Regions from separate parts of the Homo sapiens genome. Here region 2 is linked to region 1. A link means that fine-mapping ties the variant in region 1 to the expression of a gene that starts in the linked region. Tissue or cell type: whole blood. Region 1 holds a variant in brackets; the other region holds the start of a gene. All regions are shown on one strand. Distances are from middle to middle.

Region 1 (8,112 bases):
TAAGATGTACTCAGGGAGCGTGCTCCAGGGCCAGTTTCCAGAAATGACTCCCAGGACACCACAGAACTGACCAAGAGGGGCTGCCACCGAGGCCACAGCCAGGAAGGTGAGGAGTCAGGGGCCACCTCTAAACCCCCCACTGTGGCTGCCACCCAGGGGTTAGGATGCTACCACCACTGCTGTACCCGAATCTTGAGCCTCAGGAAGTCAGAGTCCAGATACTACGACACAGGGTCCAGCACTGCGTCCTCTGCTGCAACTGCTTATTGACACCCACAAGGTCACTTGCCAGCAATGACTGCCAAGAGCAGCAAGAAGACAGCTGCTTTCCAAATCTCATGGGAGCAAATCCCATTGGTAGGATCTAATTCACATCCAGAATCATAGCTGCAAGGGATCCGGGAGGAAGGGTGGCTTTAGCTTGCTAGCCTCTGCAGTATAGGAGGGTGAGGCGGGGTAGAATGGAAGGTGAGTGAGTCGACCTGGGCCCTAGCCCACTCCTACCCTGCCTCTCTGCATCACTTGGCTAGGGCCACTCCCTCCCCTTTTCAATATTTTTCCAGTTGTCTCCTTGCACTGGTTTGGGCTCCTCTGTCTCACTCCATGTGTCAGCACACTCATACTCCACTGCAGACAAGCAGCAGGGCTTGCTCGGGCAGGGCTTTGTTGATCTCACTCAGCAGGGTGTCAGGAGGCAGCCTGGGACTGGAGCTGCAGCCCAGCAGTGCCATCAGAAACCTGGGCCCTTCTGTGTTTTGGTCCCATCACCCTCAGCACTTGCTCTGCCCCTCATGCTTACCGTTGAGAGCTGCAAGTTGGCTGCACCTGCCAGCCTCACACCCACTTTCCAAGCAGCAGGGAAGGGGGCCAAACACTGCCTTCTCCTCATGAGAATTTCCTTTTATTCAGGAAGGGCCACCCTCTCCAGGGACCCTGGTTGGCCAGAAAGGTCACATGGCCATCCTTGGCTGCAAAGGAGGCTGGGAAATAACAATTTAGGTTTCAGACTCTGTAGTTAGTAGAGGAAGGAGAGCTGGAGAGGGATTGAGAATAGCTGTTGAGTGAGCCTACTTTTTAATATTTGTCATAGCCATAAAGGGAATTAGCTGGCTCACGTAACCAAGTTGTCTGGGCTTCCAGCATTGATGATGCAGAGGCCCATATGATACCATCCAGCCTCAATAGCTGTTGTTGCACATCTCCCCACTCACCTTCCTCTGCTGTGGCTTCATTCTTAGGATCCTTCTGGTACTTAGAACTCCAGATTCACATCATCTTCCCAGCTGGACATCACAACTGGAAAGGAGTTTTCTTTGTCTAGTTGTTCCAGCAAAAGTCCCAGGACTGAATCTCACTGGACTTACTCAGGTCACCAAACCACTCTTGAACGAGTTGCCATAGCCAGGCAATGGAATACCAGCTGGACCTCTGTTCCATGGGTCACGTGAGTCCTGGGCCCAAGCCCAGGTACTAAGAAAGGAATAAACTCCCCCGCTCAATGGAAAGAGGAGCACAGAATTTGCAGCCATCGGCTGGGCACAGTGGCTCAGCACTTTGGGAGGCCAAGGCGGGCGGATCACTTGAGGTCAGGAGTTTGAAACCAGCCTGGCCAACACGGTGAAACCCTGTCTCTACTAAAAATACAAAAAATTAGCCAGGCATGGTGGCACATGCCTGTAGTCTTACCTACTTGGGAGGCTGAGGCAGGAGAATGGCTTGAACCCGGGAGGTGGAGGTTGCAGTGAGCCGAGATCATGCCATTGCATTCCAGCCTGGGCGGCAGAGCGAGACTCCATCTCAAAAAAAAAAAAAAAAAAGAATTTGCAGCCATCATTAACCTACTGCCCACTAAGCTGGCTCAGCCCCCTGTAGAAACAGCACCATCACCCGCCAGTCTCCCAGGCTGGAAACCTCAAAGTCATCCTTCACTCTGCTCACCTTCACCCTCGATTTTTCACCAGGACCAGTCAGTTTCAGTATCTAATTACCTCTCACAAAGGTCCCTCACACCCCAGATCCTCTGTACCCCCAACCATCAGCACCCCTGGCCTGGGCCTTTGTAACAGCCTCCTAAGAGGCCTGTCTGCATTTAATCTGTCCATCAAGTCCTTCCTTCACATGACAGCCAGAGTGACCTTTCTAAACTGCAAATCAGGGCTCACCTTGGTTCCCGGTTCTCAGGTCTCCACCATCTGGCATGTGACCCAGAGGGAGTGAGGACACCTCTCCAAGGCTCAGCCTCACTCATAGGCAAGGCAGGCTCATAACAGAATCTCAAAGGGTTGTACTGAGGAGCACTTGGGACAAGGCATCTGGCACAAGAGACATTTCCCACCAAGGAGGGTTTCTTTCTTACCTATTGCCAATCTGAAAAAAATAAGAAGAGTAAATGGTGTTCTGGCATTCAGAGCCTCTCACCACCTGGCTCCCATTTCTCTTTTTTTTTTTTTTTTTGAGACAGAGTCTTACTCTGTGGCCCAGGCTGGAGTGCAGTGGTGAGATGTCAGCTCACTGCAACGTCCACCTCCCAGGTTCAAGCGATTCTCCTGCCTCAACCTCCCAAGTAGCTGAGATTACAGGCATGTGCCACCACACCCGACTAATTTTTGTATTTTTAGTAAGGACTAGGTTTCACCATGTTGGCCAGGCTGGTCTCAAACTCTTGACCTCAGATGATCCGCTGGCCTCGGCCTCTCAAAGCGCTGGGATTACAGGCGTGGGCACCTGGCCCATTTCTCCTTTGAGGTTCATCCCCCCTGCTTCCCGCTAAAGCCACACGCATACACTCACTCAGCGTTAAGTGCGTGCTCCTGCCCACCAGTGTACACAGAGGTCGCCCAGTCTCCACCTCTGTGGCTTGCACATGCTGTCCCCACCACCCGGTGCCCTTCCCTCTTCCAAGCCAGCTCTCCTAACCCAACCCCTACACCTGACAACCCCTTCCCCAGTTCTCCCCATGTGGAATCCATCCTTACCACTCCCGTTCATACTGTTTCAAGAACTCGTTACGTGTCAGCGGAATCATCCTGGATTGGATTGCCTCCCCCATGTGACGGGCTCCTAGGGGTCCAGCCCTGTTCCCGGCCAGAATCCAGCCCCACGGATACCTGGGTATTGGGGCTGAAGGACCCTCAGAGGTCCCCTCGTTCACAGGGGAGCCCCAGGCGGTGGGTTCTCTGAGTGCCATCCCCGCGGCGACCACGCAGGGGAGCCCGCGGGCTGGCTTTGGTCACCTAGGAAACCGACGAGGGGTGGGGCAAGGAGGGCCAGACCCCTGCCCCGACTCTGGTCTGGCTCCTCCTGTGGGCCTCGGCTCTGGAGAGCTGAGAGACCCCAGGCCCACTTCCCTCGGCCACTCGTGGCCGTGCTCTGTGCTGACTGCCTTACATGGATTATTTCATTACATTCTGCAAAACTTCCCTTGTTTGAAAAAATGAAACAAAAACAACCTTCCCTTGAGGGAGGCGTCGTCACTAACCCCGGTTTTTTTGTTTTTGTTTTCTGTTTTTCGTTTTGTTTTTGAGACGGAGTCTCACTCCATCACTCAGACTGGAGTGCAGTGGTGCGATCTCGGCTCACTGCAACCTCCACCTCCCGAGTTCAAGCGATTCTCCTGTCTCAGCCTCCTGAGTAGCTGGGATTACAGGCGCCTGCCACCATGCCCGGCTAATTTTTGTATTTTTAGCAGAGACAGGGTTTCACCTTGTTGGTCAGGCTGGTCTCGAACTCCTGATCTCAGGTGATCCACCCACCTCGGCCTCCCAAAGTGCTGGAATTACAGGCATGAGCCACCGCACCTGGTCACTAACCCTGTTTTACAGAAAAGGAAGCTGAGGCCCAGAGAGGGAAGCTCACTATAGCGGGGCAGCCAGCAGTAACGGGGAGGAGCTGGCCATGTCTGCCCAGCTTGGTGGCCTGATCTCAGGCCTGAGCCCCTCTGTGCGGGTCTCGCACTGGGTGCCTCCCAGAGCTTTCTAGGGTTTTTGGTGGCCTTTTAAAAAACTTTTCTGTAGGGCTTCATTTGTGTTGTTTTAATTGTAGTGAAATATACATAACAGAAAATGTACCATTTTTACCATTTGAAGTGTAAAGTTCAGTGACATTAAGTACATTCACAATGTGCAACTTTTTTAAGGTTGCAAAACTGAAACTCTAGCCCTACCCGGAGCAATTGGGCAAGTGAAAGAAAAAAATGGCATCCAAACTGGAAAGCAGGAAGTAAAATTGTCCCTTTTTGCAGATGACATCATCTTATATTTACAAAAACCCAAACACTCCATTCAAAAATGGTTAGGACTAATAAATTCAGTGAAGTTGCAAGACGCAAAATCAACATACAAAAATCAGAAGTGTTTCTTTACACCGGTAGGAAGCAACTTGAAAAAGAAAAAAGCAATCCCATTTATAATAGCTGCAAAAAAAAAAAAAAAACCACACTTACGAATAATTTTTTTTTTGAGACAGAGTCTCGTTCTGTTGCCCAGGCTGGAGTGCAATGGTGCGATCTCGGCTCACTGCAAGCTCCACCTCCCGGGTTCACGCCATTCTCCTGCCTCAGCCTCCCGAGTAGCTGGGACAGCAGATGCCCGCCATGACACCTGGCTAATTTTTTTTTTTTTTTTTTGTATTTTTAGTAGAGACGGGGTTTCACCGTGTTAGCCAGGATGGTCTCTAT[C/T]TCCTGACCTCGTGATCCACCCGCCTCGGCTTTCCAAAGTGCTGGGATTACAGGCGTGAGCCACCATGCCCAGCCATGAATAAATTTAACCTAAGAGGGAAAAGATCTCTATGATGAAAATTATAAAACACTGATGAGAGAAACTGAAGAGGACACAAAAACATGGAAAAATAACCCATGTTCATGGATTGGAAGAATTAATATTGTTAAAATGTCCATACCACACAAAGGGATCTACAGATTCAATATAATCTTTACCAAAATATCAATGACATTCATCACAGAAATAGAAAAAAAAAATCCTAAAATCTGTATGCAATCTGTATGGACAAAGCATTCAGGGCCTTTGAGCAAAAGGAAGAAAGCTGGAGGCATCACACTACCTGACTTCAAAACATACCACCAGGCTATAGTAACCAAAACAGCATGGTACTGGCATAAAAGTAGACACATAGGCCAGGTGCAGTGGCTCACAGCTGTATTCCCAGCACTTTGGGAGGCTGAGGCAGGAGTTCACTTGAGGTCAGAGTTCAAGACCAGCCTGGCCAACAAGGTGAAACCCCGTCTCTACTAAAACTACAAAAATTAGCCAACCATGGTGGCTTTTGCCTGTATTCCCAGCTACTTGGGAGGCTGAGGTGGGAGGATCGCTTGAACCCGGGAGGTGGAGATTGCAGTGAGCGGAGATGGCGCTGCTGCACTCCAGCCTGGGCAAGAAGTAAGACTCTGTCTCAGAAAACAAAAACAAAAACAAAAATGGACACATAGACCAATGGAACAGAATAGAAAACCCAGATATAAATCCACGTATTTACAGCCAAATGGTTTTTTACAAAGGCACCAAGAATATACACTGAGGAAAGGACAGTCTCTTCAGTAAGTGGACCAGGAAAATTGGATATCAGCATGCAGAAGAAGGAACCTAGACCCCTGTCTCCCACCACACACAAAAATCAGCTCAAAATGGATTAAAGACATAAATGTAAGACTCGAAACTAGGAAAGTACTAGAAGAAAGCATAGAGAAAATGCCTCAGGACATTGGTCTGGACAAAGTGTTTTTTTTTTTTATAAGACCTCGAAAGCACAGGCAACAAAAGCAAAAATAGACAAATGGGGAATGCAACAAGCCAAAAACATCTGCATGGCAAAGGAAACAATCCACAGAGAGAAGAGGCAACCTATAGAATGGGAGGGAATATTTGCAAACTATCCACCCAACAAAGAATTAATGTCCAGAACACAGAAGGAGCTCAAATAACTCAACAGGAAGAAAAAAAAATACAATTTTTAAATGGGCAAAAGACTTGAATAGACATTTCTCAAAAGAAGACATGCAGATAGCCAACAGATAACATGAAAAACAAATGTTCAACGTTGCCAGTCGTCAGGGAAATACAATAAAACCACAATAAGATATTATCTCACCCCAGTTAAAATTGCTATAATCAAAAAGACAGAACATGGCAAATGCTGGCAAGAATGCAGAGAAAGGGGAACTCGGCCACTGTTGGTGGGGATGTAAATCAGTACAGCTGTTATGGAAAACAGTCCGGAGCTTCCTCAAAAAACTACAACTAGCGCTACCATATGATCCTGCAATCCCACTCCTGGGTATATGTCCAAAGGAAAGAAAATCAGCATGTTGAAGAGATGTCTGTACTCCCATGTTTATTGTGTCATTATTCACAATAGCCAAGATATGGGAGCAACCTAAGTGTCTATCAGTGGATGAATAGATAAAGAAAATGTGATACATATACACAGTGGAATATTACTCAGCCATAAAAAATAATGAAATATCATCATTTGCAACAACACGGATGAGCCTGGAGGACATTATGTTAGTGAATTAAGTCAGGCGCAGGAAGACAAATTGTCTCTCATATGTAGGAGCTAAAAAGTCAATCTCACAGAGGCAGAGAGTAGAATGGAGGTCACCAGAGGATAGAAAGGGGATCGGGGAGCAGAGGGGAGGAAGAGATTGGTTAACAAGTACAAAATGACAGCCGGATAGGAGGAATGATCTCTATCGTTCTATAACACAGCAGGAAGTCTATAGCGGACGATTTTTGTATATTTCAAAATAGTTAGATGGGAAGATTTTGAAAATAGCTAGTGTTCCCCCAACACCAAGAAATGACACATGTTTGAGCCTTCAGATATTAACACCCCAGCCGACCTCAAGAAGAGCAGAGACCGGCTCTCCCAGGGGGACCCTGCCTAGACTGCGGATTCGTGAGCAAAATCAATGCTGTTTAAATCCACTAAGACGTTTCAAAGTCATTTGTTATGGAGCAGAACAGATAGGTATTCCATAAATATATGTTGAATGAATAAGGGAATAAACATTTCAGGGAAGACAGAGAAAGGAGAGGCTGCAGGGGAGACTGATGGGGGTGAGGAGGGTAGAGGGAATCAGAGAGTGAGAGTGAGTGACCTGAGGGCACACAGCAGGCTGGCGGCCAAAATTTTAAGTGTGGTGTCCCATGATGGATATCTTTATTCTGCCTTTCTTCCTTCCCTCCTCCTTTCCTTTTATATTGAGAATCTCCATCTCCCACATACACAAAAAGCTAGGAATACAAAAGTAGAAGATCAAGACCAATGAGAAAAGCAGAGGGAAATATGCCAAATGATGAGTTGTTGCTGATGAGATTCGGATTGGCCTGAGCTTCCTGGCAGCTGGGGCAAAAAGGGAAACAGGATACATTACTCAGTTCTCCTTACTGGAAAAGGAGAAGCATGTCAGTTTCTTAGCGAGATGGGTTTTCTTAACACCATGCCAGGCGAAAGCTCTTACGTGCTCTGCTGTAAGAGGCACTGGGTGACATCATGCCCTCAACAGCAAGCAAAGAAGTGGCTTCCTTGTTACTTAAAAGAACTTCTTCGCTGAAGGCCGAAGCCCAGAGCATGTCCTGACATCTTTACAGAACCTGGAGGACAGCATGGCCCTTACTGGGGTCACAGGCATCTGAGAGCATGTTTGAAATAATGATTCCAGGTCCCTCCATCGGAGAGACAGACTCAGAACTTGGGAGTCTATATCTTAACAGATACCCCAGGTGAGGCTGGTGTGTATCCAGGTTTGAGTTTCCCTCCCTAAGATCATCTTTCCTAAATCTCAAGAAAACACAGCCAGCCCCTGTCTTCTGCCTTTGCTCCCTCTGATCTTCCCAAGCTGCTGAGACATTCCACGGTATCCGCATTTTACAGATGGAAAGGCTGAGCCTGACTGATGCTGCTGCAGCTCACGGGTGGAGGCACTGAGGTTCAAAGCCAGGGTGACTCATTGGAATCCAAGGAGCTGCTGGCTGACACCAGAAAGAAGCTAGTCCTCCCAGCACTTTGGGAGGCTGAGGCGGACAGATTACCTGAGGTCAGGAGTTCGAGACCAGCCTGGCCAACATGGTGAAACCCCACCTCTACTAAAAATAC
Region 2 (8,112 bases), 80 kb before region 1:
TGGCTGTGCAGTGAGTGTCCCCGGGGAGAGCTCAGGAACAAATCCTGGCTCCATCCCTGACAGCTGTGTGGCCCCAGGAGACTGGGTTTCCCCATCTGCAAAGTGGGAGGAATAAGAAAATATCGACCTCACGGGCTGTTGTGGGCAGAGACGGACGCTAAGGATGTCAAGGCCTGGTCACAGCCGTCAGCCACCACAGCCTGGAAGGGAAGCGAGTCCTTCCACGTCCTATTGAGAGAGCGGGTAGCCAGCCCGCACCTGGACGGCCCTCACCTGGATGCCTTTCACCTGGACGGGCCCTCACCTGGACAGCCCTCACCTGGACAGCCCTCACCTGGATGGCCCTCACCTGGACAGGCCCCACAGGGCTGCATGCTCCGACCCTCGGCCCCCGCTGGTTGCTCTCCACATGACATTAGAGGGATCCATTTGAAACCTGGGTGGGATCAAGTCCCTGTCCCACCCAAACCTGCCCCTGTTCCCACTCCACTCAGCGGAGCCCAAGTCCCTACAGTAGCCGGGTGGTGACAGCACCCCATGTGATCTGAGCCTGGTGCATCTCCCGGCCCTGCCCCAGGGCCCCTGCACCAGCTGTGCCCTTTGCCAGGAGGCTCCTCCACCACCTCTTAGAAGCCTGTGCTCCATGGGTCCTCCACTGACCACCTCATTCAATATGCAGCCTGCAGCCCAGACCCGCACTCCTGAAGCCCCTTTTCATTTCCCAGAGCACTGATCACCATCGAACATTCCACTCCACTAACTTAGGTGATGTGTGCCTTGCTCACAGCCCATCTCCCCACCGAGAACGGGTGCTCAGGCAGGAGGCATCTTGGTCTGGTTTGTTCACGCTCCGTCATCAGTGTTTGGAACAGACCAGGCTCACATTGGGGCTCAATAACTCAGGATGAAAGAGGAGTCTGGACAGGTTTCCGCCCTGCCCTCTACTCCCTCCACCTCAGCTCCCTGGCCCTCCCTGCCCACTACCAGGCCCCACAGGAGGGCACTCACCCTTCAGGATGGTGATATTAATGTAGGGTCTGATCTCAGGCAGGGCGTGGGGGCGGCCGGAGGAAGAGGCTGAGGATACATGGGCAGGATCCAGGGGGTCCTCAGAGTCACAGCACCGTTGGCAGCCGCTGGCCACAGCTCTGTCAAAGGTGAGCTCCACCATAGGGATCTCACACATCAGGAGAAAGAGCAGGAGCGCTGCCCAGACGGGACCCAGGGCGGCTGTCCCCATGGTGACCTGGAACAAGGAAGGAGGGACAGGAACTATACTTCACTCAACATCTACTATGTGCCGATGCCTGGGGTGGGCGGGTGCTGCGTCCTCCAGCCACAGCACTCCTGACCTAACTCCAGAGGGAAGGTTATTGTCCCCATCTATCAGACAAGAAGACTGAGACCTCCACAGAGCAGCAAGTTCCCCAAGATCGGGAGGAGACTGGCAGGGCAGGGCCTGCATGCTGAGTCTCCGGGCACCCAGTCCATGGAGGCTTCTGCTCCACACAGGCCTTGGAAGGATGAAGCCCCTCTGAAAACAGCCACAGCTGAGAGCAGACAGGGATCCCAGGAAGCTTTGCTGGGGCAGGTGAGAAGATGCCCCAGCTGGCCATGGGTGGCAACCCAGGAGACCGTCAGATGCTTTCCCGCCCGCGCACCTCCCTCTGGCACTTTCTTGCCACCGACTCCACTATCTCCAGCAAACACATGCCCTCCGGGCAGGAGGACTGAGGTTAGTGAACACTGGGGACAAACGTGGAGGGTTCTGGAGGCTTGTTCTCAGGAGAGGGGATGGGTGGCCGAGCCCATGCTTTGGTGTGAGAACACCATAGTTCTGAAAAAAAAGAGATAAGAGAGTTCATTGATCCTAGCAGACAGAAAGCAACGTCCATGAGAGCATGTGGGGTGGTGCGCGGTGATGGTGTCATTGCATCGCTGAGCAGTCAGGAGAAGGAATACTGGGTCCTTGACTGCAGCCCATTGCTAGTCTTTAGAGTGCCTTTGTGCAAAGCAAAGAAGGTGCCCCTCTGGACAAATTAGAAATGATAAGAGTCCCCGTTGGAGGGACGTGATGCTGAGGGTGTGCAGCTTGGCAAGGGCTGGCGCTAGTCCACCTCCCTGCTCAGCACCTTTGTGCAGTCAACTATCTATGCAACCCAACCTTATCCAGAAGCCCTGCAGGGAGGGTTCTGTAGAGAGAGTTAGTTCATTGGAAGATGGTTGTGTCAATCATCGTAGACCTGCCAATCAGATGCCAAGGTGGTAAATTGGAATTAAGGGGTAGGACTAGGAGGTATAAAAAATTCTAAAGGATCAGAAAAGTGTAAGTGTTGGTGAGGATCTGTCTCTGGCCTTGGCCAAGAAGGGGTCTAGGGCTCCAGGAGAGAGGCAGGAAGTAGCCTGGACACCAGGCGCTAGAGACAGTCCTGGGTTGGGTGGGCAGGAAGCCGGGCAAAAAGACCTTTGAGGTGGTGCAGCTTCTGGGGGCTGGTGCCGAGTTATCACAGGATCAGAAACTCTGCTTTTGAAACCAGACTGGTTTTTACACTTCTGGCGTTTCTTTGTTTATTTCCTTTTTGTTCTCCTTTAACATTTAGTAGAATTCAAAAATATTTTTTTTGTGGTTAATACATGTAGACAAGGTACAATTATTACTTTTTAAAATGCCACCCTGTCTCAGCTGAGCACTGAGGTGAGGGCAGAGTTTTAAAGGGGCAGGATGGCCAGGTGCAGTGACTTACTCCTGCAATCCCAGCACTTTGGGAGGCCACGGAGAGAGGATCACTCGAGTCCCGGAGTTCGAGACCAGTCTGGGCAACATAGTGAGACCCTGTCTCTATTTTTCAAAAATTAAAACTAAAAATAAATAAAGCGGCAGGAGCCCTGCCCCCCACCCCCAGAGCTGGATGGTAGCAGCAGGAGAAGGGGGCTGGACAGGAAGTCTCCAGAGCCACCTCCCTCTTCCTGGAGGTGACTCTTCCCAAGCTTCTCTCTGCCCACCCTGGTTGGGTTCCTGGTTCTGCTCAATAAGGAGGTCAAATCCTCAGAGATCAACATCCTCCCTGTCTGAGACTGTCATCCTCAACTTTTACTTATAAATGACAAATCCCAGTGGTTTTGGAAATCCCAAAATTCCCTTCTTTTTCCCAGCCACAGATATGACCTCATGAGAAAAGCTGAGGTCTTAGAGTCAAATCTGAGACCCAGAATAGTTTGCAAGCTGTGTGACCTAGGGCTAGTGGCTGAACCTCTCTGGGCTTCCTGCTCCTTGATACTTACAAGGAAATGACACCACCCTTTCCCTCCCAGGTAATTTGGAAGGATTTCAATGCAGGAAAAGTGCCTGCCTTATAAAAGACTTAAAAAAAAAAAAAAAAGTGTGCTTTGACTTCTTCCCTGTGCCTGCATGGGATGGGAAGGAGAACTTCTCCCAGAGGACTGGCATGGTTTGGGAGCATTTCTGTTTCCTATTGGCCCCAGCGGATGGGAGTCAAAGGCTGTGAGACACAGAACCGTGGCCTGGGAGCAGGAATCAGGAAGCCGTTAACGAGGAATCATAACCACAGCCAGGATCACGAACTAGCTCTGGGGGTGGGTGCCAGGCAGGGACCAAGTGTGGGAACCAAGTCATAGGGAGGACTTTTGGGGTCCTTGCTGCTTCCACTGGGACCTCTTTGGGGAGGGAGCGGCAGGGCAACTTTTCTCGGTCCAGGCAGGCCGTGCAGAGCTGAGTTTGTGTGTGCCCGGGTAGGGGCGGGCACAAACCGGGAGCAGTGGAGCGCAGCCCTCAGCCAGAGGCAGGAGGAAATGTGGAGGGGAGAGCCTGGAGAGGCTGTCCCAGTCAGAGGGAGAGAGCAGGGCCCGAGATGCTTCCAGGAAGCAAGGAGGGAGGAGAGGAATTCCAGGCTCTGACCCCAGCCCCCAAGCTTGAGGAGCCTCTGGTCACTCACCCTGTGTCCTGTGGCCTCCCCAGGCGACTCACGGACCCTGAGCCACTGCATGGCCTCTGGCTCCTTGGCCCATGTCTGCAATACTAACTTGTTGCTGGCCCAGACCCCCAGGCCCAGCAGAGGAGGGAGAGAGGAGGGGATGGAGGGAGAGAGGGCGGAGGGAGGGCGGAGGGAGAGGGCAGAGCCGCTTCCCACTTCCCCTCCTCCCTGCTCCCTCCCTTTCAGCCTCTGGGTTCTGCGGAGATAAAGGGAGGCAGGGATTTCCTTTGCTTAACTCTTTGGTGATCCAGTGGGGTCTTGCTTGATTCAAAGGCCTAGAAAGTCAGAGCAGGCAGGAGTCTGAGGCCCCCTGATGATTGGGAAATGGACACAGGCATGGGGCACAGGAGCCCCTAGGTTGCTCAGGAAGGGGGAGGCAGCCCTGAGTCCACCCTGAGCTAAAGTGCTTAACTGCTCTGAGTCACAGAGGCAGGGTGGGTAGCAGAGAAGGTGCAGGTGTTGGCCCTCCAGGCACAGGCTAGAATCCTGGCCCTGCTACCACAGTCGCGTCGCCTCTCAGAGCCTAGGTGTTCCAGAACTGCAGTCCTCAGCCCCCTTTGTGCCAGGCACATGGGAGGGCTTAACCCATGTTTGTTGGGTGAATGACCAGGCTGACCTCCTCAGGTATCATGCAAGTGTTACCAGAGAGGGGTACTGATCAGACCCCAAGAGAGAATTCTTGGATCTTGCACCAGAAAGAATTTGGGGTAAGTCCACAGAGCAAAGTGAAAGCAAGTTTATTAGAGAAGCAAAGAAACAAAAGAATGGCTACTCCATAGGCAGAGCACCCCCAAGCACTGCTAGTTGGCTATTTTTATAGTTATTTCTTGATCCTATGCTAAACAGGGGTGGATTATTCATGAGTTTTCCAGGAAAGGGGTGGGAATTTCCTGAAACTGAGGCTTCCTCCCCCTTTTAGACAATATAGGGTAATTTCCGGACATTGCCATGGTATTTGTAGGCTGTCTTGGTGCTGGTAGAAGTGTGTTTTAGCAAGCTAACACATTTTAATTAACATACAATGAGCAATAAGGATGACCAGATGTCACTTTCATTGCAATCTTAGATTTGGCAGGTTTTGGCTGGTTTGTTTACCGCATACTGTTTCTCAGCAGGGTCTTGATGACCTGTATCTTGTGATACCAGTCCTGCCAACTTCCTATCCCTTCCTGTGACTACAAATGCCTGACCTCCTGGGAATGCAGCCTGGCAGGTCTTAGCCTCATTTTACCCAGCCCCTATTCAAGATGGAGTTGCCCTATTTTGAACACCTCTGACATATTTCCCTACTCTCTTTTACGAGGGAACGTTTAATCTTAAGGGTTGTAGAGGCATGAAGATCCATCTTCTGTAACTTCTTCAGGCTGAATAGAGGCGATGATATTCCTGCCTAACTATTAGAGTCTCTTGGGTTTGGTGCAGAGAGGAACTGAGTAAGAAAATGTTGGTGTGTTCAGAGTCATTTGTAACTCTGAGTCCTAACAAAAGGTGATATCTGGAAGATTAATGTGTTCAATTTAAGGAAGCACTGAGTAAGCTTATCTTGCATTCTTACACAAAGAGTATAGCAGCAATATATTCTACAACAGCAAAGTAAAATAAGTAAAATTATCCCAAGTAATCCAAATAAGAAGGCTTTCCATGAACTGGGCAAGAATGCCTGTGACTTATCGGGTAAAATGAGGCTGAGACCTACTGGGCTGCATTCCCAGGAGGTTAGGCATTCTTAGTCACAGGAATTGCTAGATGAGCTGATACGGAGTTGCTAGACGATTCCAATACATGCTCAGAATTAGATACTGATCCAGATTTTTATGTTATCCATCCCTCTTGTTTCTGACGAGAAGCAGTCAAGAGATGACTGTTTGGTTCACAGAAAGAAGCAAGGTCAGTCTAAATTGCAGACAAAAAACTCAAAAACAATGGATGAGACTAGAATCTATGACAGGTGTACCATATTTTTTGAAACACCGTTTTTCTCTCTCCAGTCTCCCATTTTTTATTAAAAACAAATCATGGTAGGACCAATTTATTTGCAAAATAAGCTTTAGTCTTATTATACTTGGCTTCATTATTTGCATAAAGTGCAGCAAGTATAATTATTTGCCATACAGGCTCCTTTTAAAATTGGCTTTGTTTCATAAGGTATCTTAGATTAGATGTTTTAAAGCTTTGAGCCCAGCCATGGATTTACCTATGCCTGCAAGAACCTGTATGAGTTAGATAAATTCCTCTCCTCTTGAGGTCCCGAGATAACTCGGGGCTCCCAGGCCTGTCAGAAAGTTACATTCTTTACTTACCACAGGTCAGGAACCCTATACAGGGACTTCATACACAAGGTACAAGACCAGTTTTTCCAAGAGGCTTTTATTGGCTCTATTAGTCAACTTTAATTCCTTAAAGAAGTCTGTTTATATTTGAAAGCATGCCACTCGAGTCAAACCCTTGTTAAATAACCAGTTTCTCCAATTGTGTCCTGTTACAAAAAAAAAAAAAGAAGAAAGAAGGAAAAACAGATTCTTACTGCACTTATGCAAATAACTATATTGCCGTAAGTTAAGAACACTCACAAATAGTTTCCAAATTCTGCAGAAATCAGGTAAAGAGAAAAAAACATATTCCAAATTTTGTTTTTGGACAAAACTTTGTTTTATAATCCTTACCGGAGCGTACTTTACTCAATTGTTAAAAGCTGTAAATAGCTCAAGAAGGGGGGGTTTCTTGACTCTGAAAAACAAAACAGAAAGATCAACAACATTTTAAGCAAAAAGTCATAAAAGATTATTTCAGTCTTTTATTAGTTCAGTCTATGCAATTAATTCCTGTTTTGCTTGATATATATGTGTTAGTTTTCCAAGAGTCTTGGATGATGTTTTCTTTTTCTCTGCATTTAAGAGTACTCATCAGAGTCCTATAGCTGATTATAAACCACCTTTTGAAGAGAATAAAAGCAAGACAACAATTGTCTATGGATGACAGAAAGACTTAGAGCAGTCATGGTTAAAGAATTAATATCATTGACTAGGAAATGTGGATACCTCTGTGGCATATAATAAATTAACATCATAACAATTATAATTATTATTGATAATGTCCATTAGTATTGATAATGTTCATATCAGAATTATAGGAGTTTCCCATAATTTTGGAACACATACCAATAACATATTTATATAAACACAGCCCAAAGAAAGCCAAACACAATTTCATATTTGACAATGCTTCCTGTATTATTTTAATGTACCAAATAAGCCAAATATGTCATTTTTGGACTTTAGGGGACCTAATATCTAAAGGACTAATCAGGTTAGAAAAAGGCATAACTTAGAATTTGATTTTGGAAAGTTTGTCAAATATCAAAAATTTAAAACATTTGATACTACAAAATAGCATCCCAGGTCACCATAAGTCATTTATTTGGCCAAAATGATAACTCAAAGATGTTTTTAAGGGCAAAAACCTTTACTCACCGATAAAGGGAAGACTTAGCTTTCCAAAAAAAACTGTCTCTTTTCGTTCCTTTCTTTTTTCTATAGCTTATTCAAAAGGCAAACAAAAATCTTTAATTATTTTTCAATATTACATGAAAAACTTGTTCAAGAGAGAAAGCCAAATTTTACCTTTGCATTTGTGTACTATTAATGTCAAACCCAATTCATAATAAAGCCTTATAGACAACTCTATCCAATTTTAATGTTTGACCATGAGGTAAGAGTCTCATAAACCTTTTATAGCTCTTTACAATTTTCTTGTTAAAGAGTATACCAGTGCTCTAAGAAAACCTTGTTATACTTTTATTCCATATTTAATTTATGGAAAAACTGAATAATATCCCTTTAATTTAAGCCAATAAGTTCACACAGAATTTCTTTTACAAGATTAATCTTTCACAAACCTTCCATAACTTGCTCAAACCTTCAGCTTTATCCTACCTAACTTGAAACAATCCTTTAACCCTCTAAAGTAGGGGGAAAGTCCACATTCCCATGCTTTCTTATAATCTTCTTACCAAAAGCATATTCAATTTTCCTTACACACCTTGCATATAAAACTGTTTCTCTAGTAGTCTCAATTACATATAACATATTACGATGTTAACTCTTAGCAACTTTTATTTTTT

Evidence for each region. PIP is the estimated chance that this variant, and not a neighbour inherited with it, causes the effect.
Region 2: C1QTNF6 starts here. The variant in region 1 is fine-mapped to the expression of C1QTNF6 in whole blood (Lepik 2017, PIP 0.90).

The regions. Positions count from the first base shown.
Region 1 is chr22:37,264,005-37,272,116 of GRCh38, forward strand. LOC107985576 (a long non-coding RNA gene) reads right to left here and starts at 1,553. Exons shown (of 3, transcript XR_001755534.1): 1 at 800-1,553. RefSeq lists enhancers at 3,274-3,333, 3,354-3,543. The variant C/T (reference allele first, on the strand shown) is at 4,676.
Region 2 is chr22:37,184,210-37,192,321 of GRCh38, forward strand. C1QTNF6 (C1q and TNF related 6) reads right to left here and starts at 4,038. Exons shown (of 3, transcript NM_031910.4): 1 at 3,954-4,038; 2 at 1,009-1,246. The coding sequence starts at 4,004. IL2RB-AS1 (IL2RB and C1QTNF6 antisense RNA 1) reads left to right here. Exons shown (of 2, transcript NR_199008.1): 2 at 1-2,613. RefSeq lists enhancers at 3,142-3,777, 3,778-4,411, 4,412-5,047, 5,048-5,681.